3 separate regions of the Homo sapiens genome follow, and regions 1 and 2 are each linked to region 3. Evidence: fine-mapped expression QTL. A gene starts in region 3. Each other region holds a variant in brackets. All regions are shown on one strand. Distances are from middle to middle.

Evidence for each region. PIP is the estimated chance that this variant, and not a neighbour inherited with it, causes the effect. A credible set is the group of variants that fine-mapping cannot tell apart.
Region 1: its variant is the best candidate, but not a certain one, in a credible set for the expression of ARF6 in whole blood (INTERVAL, PIP 0.71).
Region 2: its variant is the best candidate, but not a certain one, in a credible set for the expression of ARF6 in fibroblasts (GTEx, PIP 0.90).

Annotation. Positions count from the first base shown.
Region 1 is chr14:49,965,320-49,968,081 of GRCh38, forward strand. MIR6076 (microRNA 6076) reads left to right here and starts at 1,080; the gene lies at 1,080-1,192. The variant C/T (reference allele first, on the strand shown) is at 1,603.
Region 2 is chr14:49,981,374-49,984,135 of GRCh38, forward strand. It overlaps LINC01588 (long intergenic non-protein coding RNA 1588), which reads right to left. Exons shown (of 4, transcript NR_126498.1): 4 at 296-931. The region is part of intron 1 of LOC105370485 (a long non-coding RNA gene); the gene reads left to right. Among named protein-coding and RNA genes, the nearest start is that of MIR6076, 16 kb to the left of the region's middle. The variant C/A (reference allele first, on the strand shown) is at 1,613.
Region 3 is chr14:49,891,348-49,894,109 of GRCh38, forward strand. ARF6 (ARF GTPase 6) reads left to right here and starts at 1,735. Exons shown (of 2, transcript NM_001663.4): 1 at 1,735-1,810; 2 at 1,909-2,762. The coding sequence starts at 2,390. RefSeq lists enhancers at 1,295-1,394, 2,265-2,584, 2,615-2,664 and silencers at 1,485-1,874, 1,915-2,104.

The sequences.
Region 1 (2,762 bases), 74 kb after region 3:
TGTCCTTATTGCCACTGAATTGTACACTTAAAATGGTTAAAGTGGTAAATTTTATATTATGTATATTTCACCATAGTAAAAAAAAGTTTTAAATACACATTCCAGGGCCCCACCCTTAGAAAGCCTCAGAGGCGGCCGGGCGAGGTGGCTCACGCCTGTAATCCCGGCACTTTGGGAGGCCGAGGCAGGTGGATCACCTGAGGTCAGGAGTTCAAGACCAGCCTGGCCAACATGGTGAAACCCCTTCTCTACAGAGATACAAAAATTAGCCTGGCATGATGGTGGGTGCCTGTAATCCCAGCTACTCTGGAGGCTGAGGCAGAAGAATCACCTGAACCTGGGTGGCAGAGGTTGCAGTGAGCCGAGATAGTGCCATTGCGCTCCAGCCCGAGTGACAGAGCAAAACTCCGTCTCAAGAAATCCTCAGAAGGTGATACAGTAAATATGGATGGGGTGGGAATCTGGAATCTGTATTATTATTATTATTATTTTTAATGCCTTCCTATCTTTCTCAGGCATAGTCAGGTTTGGAAACTTATGATTTAGTCTCTGCCAGTTCTTTCCAAGGGGCTGGTGCGTCTGTAAGGAAGTGTTCACCAGTCTACGTGAAATACATGTGTATTTCTCATGCATCTGAGTGTATTAAATTTGAAGTCCTGTTTTAAAATCTGAGATTGTCATGATTACATTGTTTTGGGGTTAAAGTGTCCAATCATCTCCCACCATAAAATGATGGTGACAATAATTCAGGTTGTTTTTTAAGTGTCTGTGCTTGGCAAAATAGAAGTGAGCAGTCCTATGTTAGTCTCTCAAAAGGTTTTCAAAATTTTAATGGTTTGTTAAATTCCAAAGATTGGGAACCATTCCTCCAGACACCATCCCTTTGAAAATACTGAAATAGAAACTGCTTCTGCTGTTTATTTTATTTGTGCCAGAAAGAAAAAAAAAATGGAAAGGACCTATACATTTTTCTGTGGTTCATAGGACCTGGAGCAACAAAGGGCAGCATTGAAACTGACAGCATTGACATGTAATTTGTCCTGCTGCCTGTTGGAACGTTCTTTTTCAGATGCTGGAGGAGCATGACAGAGGAGAGGTGGAGGTAGGCGAGAGTAATATAATTTCTCCAGGAGAACATCTGAGAGGGGAAGTTGCTTTCCTGCCCTGGCCCTTTCACCCTCCTGAGTTTGGGGGCTGTGGTGGGGCAGGGATTGACCAACAGCCATTCCTAGGGGATGGATGCCTTTGCATTCCAGAGGGCAGCTGGCTGAAGGGAGTGCTGAGTCTGTGGGAGCCATAGCCCGCCCCACCCTTTAGGCAGATTAGTTAATTATTGAAAAGTGCCTCAGAAGCACAAAGGTCTGGAGAGACTCCATGAGCTATTGCTCAGGCCCGTGTGGGAGCTGGCATTTCTGAGGAGACACTGAGACTCTTCTAGGAGGCTGTGGAACAAGAAATAGTTCCTTCCCATTGTGGTGCAGTCCTTTCAGGTTTGGTGTAGAGAGACAGTTCCAGAGAATTCTTATACAGTGCATATAACTTCTCAAGAGAGAAGTTAAATTTATTTGTCTTAGGATTTGTGAAGTATTTAGATAAATGAAC[C/T]ACATCAGATATTTTCCGTTGTTTTAATTTTTTGTGTGTGTGGTTTTAATGTTTTAAGGACATTCAGGTCTTTTTTTTTTTTTTTTTTTAAACGGAGTCTTCCTCTGTCACCCAGGCTGGAGTGCAGTGGCACAATCTCAGCTCACTGCAACCTCTGCCTTCTGGATTCAAGCAATTCTCCTGCTTCAGCTTTCAGCTTCCCGAGTAGCTGGGACTACAGGTGCGCGCCACCACGCTGAGCTAATTTTTGTGTTTTTAGTAGAGACGCGGTTTCACCATGTTGGCCAGGATGGACTTGATCTCGTTATCTGCTCACCTCGGCCTCCCAAAGTGCTGGGATTACAGGTGTAAGCCACCACACCCGGCCCATTCAGGTCATTTATGCATAAACGATCACATGACATGTTCTGTTCTCTGACTTACTTTTTTCTTTTACTTAACAACATTCCCTGTAGCTCTTTCTGTGTTAGTGCATATAGGCATCCCCCATTTTAACTGTTGCATTCCTTCTAGATGTATCATAGTTTCTTTACCCACTATTTTAGCAAAGGATCACATAGGTGGTTTTCCATTTTTCACCATTACAAACAATGCTGCAACAAATGTTCTTATACACAAATGGGTGTGTGTATGTATGAGTGTTTCTGAAGGATATTATTTCTAGAAGTGGAATTTCTGGATCAAAGGGCATGCACATTTAAAATTTTTGTAAATAATATTGAGTTTCTCCCCCAAAATTCTGTTCTGATTTTTATAGCCACCATTATACTCATCAGCGTTGGACATAATCATTTTGTTAAAACTGCCAGCGTCATGTGCAGAAAAAACAGTGTCATTTTAAATTGCATTTCCTGGATTTACCAGTTAGATTGTTCATTTTATCATATGCCTATTGACCATTTCAATTTTTGGAACTTTTAGAAATAAAAATACAGAAAAGGTGTATAGGCTGGTTGCAGTGGCCTACTGACCATTTCAATTTTTGGAACTTTTAAAAATAAAAATAGAGAAAAGGTGTATAGGCTGGTTGCAGTGGCCTACTGACCATTTCAATTTTGGGAACTTTTAAAAATAAAAATACAGAAAAGGTGTATAGGCCGGGTGCAGTGGCTCACGCCTGTAGTCCCAGCACTTTGGGAGGCCAAGGCGGGTGGATTGCC
Region 2 (2,762 bases), 90 kb after region 3:
GACCTTCTCCAGGGACCTTAGCAGGGACCTCTGCTAGCAGGTTAGTCTGGAACTGGAACTCTGTGCAGCAGGTACCCCAGGATAAGGTATCATCCATCTGGACCGTCTCAGAAGTGAGTGTACCCCCTTGTCCCAAGTTTCCTGTCCTCTACATATGCTCTAAAGGCCCTGGGGTATGGGGAGGAATGTGACTCAAAGTCTTGCCCTCACATCCAGTGCTGAGCAGCAGCAGGTACAGTGCCTGCTGGGCCTCCCATCTGCTTAATTTCCCCTTCCATGAAGCCTTCCATCATCTGTTAGACCAATCTTGTCTTTCTTTTATTTGTATTTATTTATTTAGAGATGGAGTCTCACTCTATCACCCAGGCTGGAGGGCAGTGGTCCAATCTCAGCTCACTGCAACCTCCACCTCCCGGGTTCAAGCGATTCTTTTGCCTCAGCCTCCAGAGTAGCTGGGATTACAGGTGTGCACCACCACTCCCTGCTAATTTTTGTATTTTTAGTAGGGACAAGGTTTCACCATGTTGGCCAAGCTGGTCTCAAACCCCTGTCCTCAAGTGATCCGTGGCCTCCCAAAGATTCCAGGCATGAGCCACCGTGCCCGGCCCAATCTCGTTTCTCTTTTCCATGTGCTTGCGCAGTGCTTCAGGGCTGCCTCAGTCTAGCACAGAAAATACTCTACTGCCTCCCCACTAGTCACAGCCTTGACGGTCTCAATCAGAATTATCTGGCAAAGTGGAGAAAGTGCAGACCTACTGAATCAGATTCTCGGGTTCAGATTTTCTTGTAGCACACTCACGTGGGAGAGAAACTTCGCTGGCACACGTCTCCTCAGAGCAGGGACCTGGTCTCATTGCTCTTCATGTTTCCCACAGCTCTTAGCACCGTGACAACCAGCAGCCAGTGTCTGGTGAGTGTACAGAGGTATTTCCTAGGAAGAAAATGAGAGTAAGGAGAGTGTAAAGGTGGGGTTAAGAGTGTGGAACAACTGAAGAGGATATAATTTGAGAGAAGAGCGGTGAGATGGGAAACCTCAGGGTTGATCCACAGTGCCCACCCTTGGGGTTCCTTTGAGTGCTAGAATAGATATTCAGTCAATATCTCTTCCCCTCCTTTTCTCCGTAGACACATACTTTAGTCCCAGAATTTTTTTTTTTTGAAATCTAAACTTTCAATGACGAAATGAGTAATTGTGCATAAAGTGGGTCACAAGGAAGTGATAACGAATGCACAGACTATTTTAACTGCTGAATCAGAAATCGCTCTGCTACGTTATGAAATATGCAGGAAGGAAAATAAGCAGATGACAGAAGTGGAAGGAATCCTAAAATAATATTTTCACAAACAAATTCTGACCCAACATAGGCTTGGGGGGCAGTGGGGGGAAGCTTCCATGCTACACATTCCTGAGAGTTGAAGAATTGGAACAAAATTGCCAAAGTAGAAATCTTTCTAAATGACGTAGGATCTCCTGAGGCACAAAGCCACCCAAACCCGCAGCCCGAAAGCCTTCTGTAATTTCATGGGGGGGTCTTAGTCACCCCGCTACACGGCATGGGCAGGTTGGGATTAAAGAAAGCAAAGACAAAACAAAACCCACAAACAAAATTTA[C/A]AAACTGTTCTATTTTTTCTTCCTAACACAAACAAACAAAACCCACTTTTTTGGTTTCATTTGTTTCATAGATTTTTAAAAATTGTTGTAAAACATATGTAATATAAGTTACCATTTTAGCTTTTTTTTTTTTTTTTTTTTTTTTTTGAGACAGAGTCTTACTCTGTTGCCCAGGCTGGAGTGCAGTGGCATGATCTCGGCTCACTGCAACCTCTGTCTCCCGGGGTTCAAGAGATTCTCGTGCCTCAGGCTTCCAAGTAGCTGGGATTATAGGCATGGCCACCACGCCCAGCTAATTTTTGTATTTTTAGTAGAGATGGGGTTTCGCCATGTTGGCCAGGCTGGTCTTGAACTCCCAACCTCAGGTGATCTGCCCGCCTCAGCCTCCCAAAGTGCTGGGTTTATAGGTGTGGCCACTGCCACTGCATCCGGCCCATTTTAACTTTTTTTTTTTTTTTTTTTTGGAGACGAAGTCTTGCTCTGTTGCCCAGGCTGGAGTGCAGTGGCACGACCTTGGCTCACTGCAACCCCTGCTTCCTGGGTTCAAGATATTCTACTGCCTCAGCCTCCTGAGCAGCTGGGACTACAGGCACCTGCCACCACATCCAGCTAATTTTTGTATTTTTAATAGAGACAGGGTTTCACCATATTGGCTAGGCTGGTCTCGAATTCCTGTCCCCGTGGTCTGCCCACCTCGGCCTCCCAAAGTGCTGGGATTACAGGCATGAGCCACCGTGCCTGACCAGCCATTTTTAAGTGTACAATTCAGTGGCCTTAAGTACATTCACAATTCACTTAATATTGCCCAACTGTCACCATTATCTATTTCCAGGATTTTTGCATCATCCCAAACAGAAACTCTGTACCCAATAAGCAATAATTCCCTATTCTCTCATGCCTTATCTCCTGGTAACCACCATTCTACTTTCTGCCTCTATGAATTTGCCTGCTCTAGATACCTCACATAAATTGAATCACACAATATTTGTCCTTTTGTACCTGGCTCGCTCCTTCCCTTCCTCCCTCCCTCCCTCCCTTCCTTCCTTCTTTCCTCTCTTTCTCTCTTTCTTTCCTTCTTTTGATGGAGTCTCACTCAGTCGCCCAGGCTGGAGTGCAATGGTGCAATCTCGGCTCACTGCAACCTCCGCCT
Region 3 (2,762 bases):
GAAGCTGCAGTGAGCTGACATCGCACCACTGCACTGCAGCCTTGGTGACAGAGCGAGACCTTGTCCCAAAAATAGAGAGGTGGGGTTGGGGATGACACTTGAACCCCAATCTTCAGACTCCTAAGCTTTTCAGTTTTATGACAGTGCTTCATCTTAAGGTAAATGGAAAGTAAATGAAATAATTGTTAGAATATTAATGTTTAATAAGTTTATTTCCGACTGAAATGACGTTTATAAGGTTATCATATAACCTATCTACCATTATCTAATATTTTAAATTTGTTTAATAAAAACAGTATGTTACCATATGCTGTTTATAGCATCTTGCTTTTTAAACAAAGATACCCATTTCCTGTTTTTCTCCCCTTGATATTTGAAGGTTTCACGTTATTTTAAGTCTAATTTTATCATTAACCATTTGATACAAAAATGTGTCCTTGGCAGGGCGCAGTGGCTCACGCCTGTAATCCCAGCATTTTGGGGGGCCGAGGCGGGTGGATCACCTGAGGTCAGGACTTCGAGACCAGCCTGGCCAACATGGTGAAACCCCGTCTCTACTAAAAATACAAAAATTAGCCGGGCGTGGTGGTGGGCGACCTAATTCCAGCTGCTCCGGAGGCTAAGGCAGAACTGCTTGAACCCAGGATGAGGAGGCTGCAGTGAGCCGAGATTGTGCAACTGGACTCCAGCCTGGGCGACAGAGTGAGACCCCGTCTCAAGAAACAAACAAAAACCAAAAAACCAAAAATGTGCCCTGAAGTCTTCCACATTGTATTATTTAAGCCTCACGTGAGTTAGCAAGGTCAGTTTACACGAGATAAACTTAGTAAGGTTAAGTGCCCAGATCCAGGCCATACAAGCGGTCGTTCTATATTCTAAATTCTATGCTTCTTAAAGTTAAGAATGGGTAGTAGTTAAGAAGCTACTACTAACAGTATGAGATAAAATGATATTTTAAAGATGAACAGATGTCGCATTCTAAAAAGGTGAAAACGCGGCAAGGCACAGGAACTCTTCATAATACTGCAGTTTTTAAGAAACATGGGCTGGTCTTGACGAGACCTATAGGCAGACAGGGCTCAAACATTCAAAAGAGCTGCAGAGTAAACTCAACTCCGGGAAAGCGCTGCACTGACTGGCAGATTCCACACGAGACACTGGCCTCCCACGTGTCTTTCAGGAAACATACAAAATTCAAGGGATAAAGGAAGCCAAGAAGGGGTTGCGAAAAAGGGAAAAAAAAAAAAAACAAAAGCGAACAGAGCTTCCCTGGGACGTTCAGGGAGCGCGGAGGGTGCGGGAAGGCTGGGGCGGGCGGAGGGAATTCGCAGAGCATCTGGCGGGCACCGAGGTCTGGGAACAGGCCTGGAGGCAGCTCGGTTCGTGGAGAGAGCGGGCTGCCCGTGGGCCCCACCCTGTAGGGCCCCCCAGTAGATCTGCTCCCTTGGTTCGGGTGGGCAGGGGAGGGCAGAGCGCAAAAGAGAAAAGCAGGGAAGGAGACGCTAGAAGAGCCACGGGTAGGCGCGAGTCAGAGTCCGAGGTTCGAGGGCTCTGGGCCGGCCGCATCTGCGAGCCCTCCGAGGCGCCGTAGCCCCGCCCCTCCGGCGCGTGGCGCCCATGACGCTAGGCGCGCGGGCCGCTCTCCTTACAGAGGTCGCTCTTGTCCGAACGGTCGGCCTCTGCTGCGCCTGCGTGGTCGGGAGGGGAAGTGAGGCGGTTTCCTCGGCGCCTTTTCCGGCAGCGGCGGCGGCAGAACTGGGAGGAGGAGTTGGAGGCCGGAGGGAGCCCGCGCTCGGGGCGGCGGCTGGAGGTAACCCCTTGGGCCGAGCTGGAAAGGCGGGCCACCTCGGTCTTCGCTCCTTTGTGGAGCTCTGGCAGTAACTCCCCTCCCTCTCTGTTTCTCTGCAGGCAGCGCACCGAGTTCCCGCGAGGATCCATGACCTGACGGGGCCCCGGAGCCGCGCTGCCTCTCGGGTGTCCTGGGTCGGTGGGGAGCCCAGTGCTCGCAGGCCGGCGGGCGGGCCGGAGGGCTGCAGTCTCCCTCGCGGTGAGAGGAAGGCGGAGGAGCGGGAACCGCGGCGGCGCTCGCGCGGCGCCTGCGGGGGGAAGGGCAGTTCCGGGCCGGGCCGCGCCTCAGCAGGGCGGCGGCTCCCAGCGCAGTCTCAGGGCCCGGGTGGCGGCGGCGACTGGAGAAATCAAGTTGTGCGGTCGGTGATGCCCGAGTGAGCGGGGGGCCTGGGCCTCTGCCCTTAGGAGGCAACTCCCACGCAGGCCGCAAAGGCGCTCTCGCGGCCGAGAGGCTTCGTTTCGGTTTCGCGGCGGCGGCGGCGTTGTTGGCTGAGGGGACCCGGGACACCTGAATGCCCCCGGCCCCGGCTCCTCCGACGCGATGGGGAAGGTGCTATCCAAAATCTTCGGGAACAAGGAAATGCGGATCCTCATGTTGGGCCTGGACGCGGCCGGCAAGACAACAATCCTGTACAAGTTGAAGCTGGGCCAGTCGGTGACCACCATTCCCACTGTGGGTTTCAACGTGGAGACGGTGACTTACAAAAATGTCAAGTTCAACGTATGGGATGTGGGCGGCCAGGACAAGATCCGGCCGCTCTGGCGGCATTACTACACTGGGACCCAAGGTCTCATCTTCGTAGTGGACTGCGCCGACCGCGACCGCATCGATGAGGCTCGCCAGGAGCTGCACCGCATTATCAATGACCGGGAGATGAGGGACGCCATAATCCTCATCTTCGCCAACAAGCAGG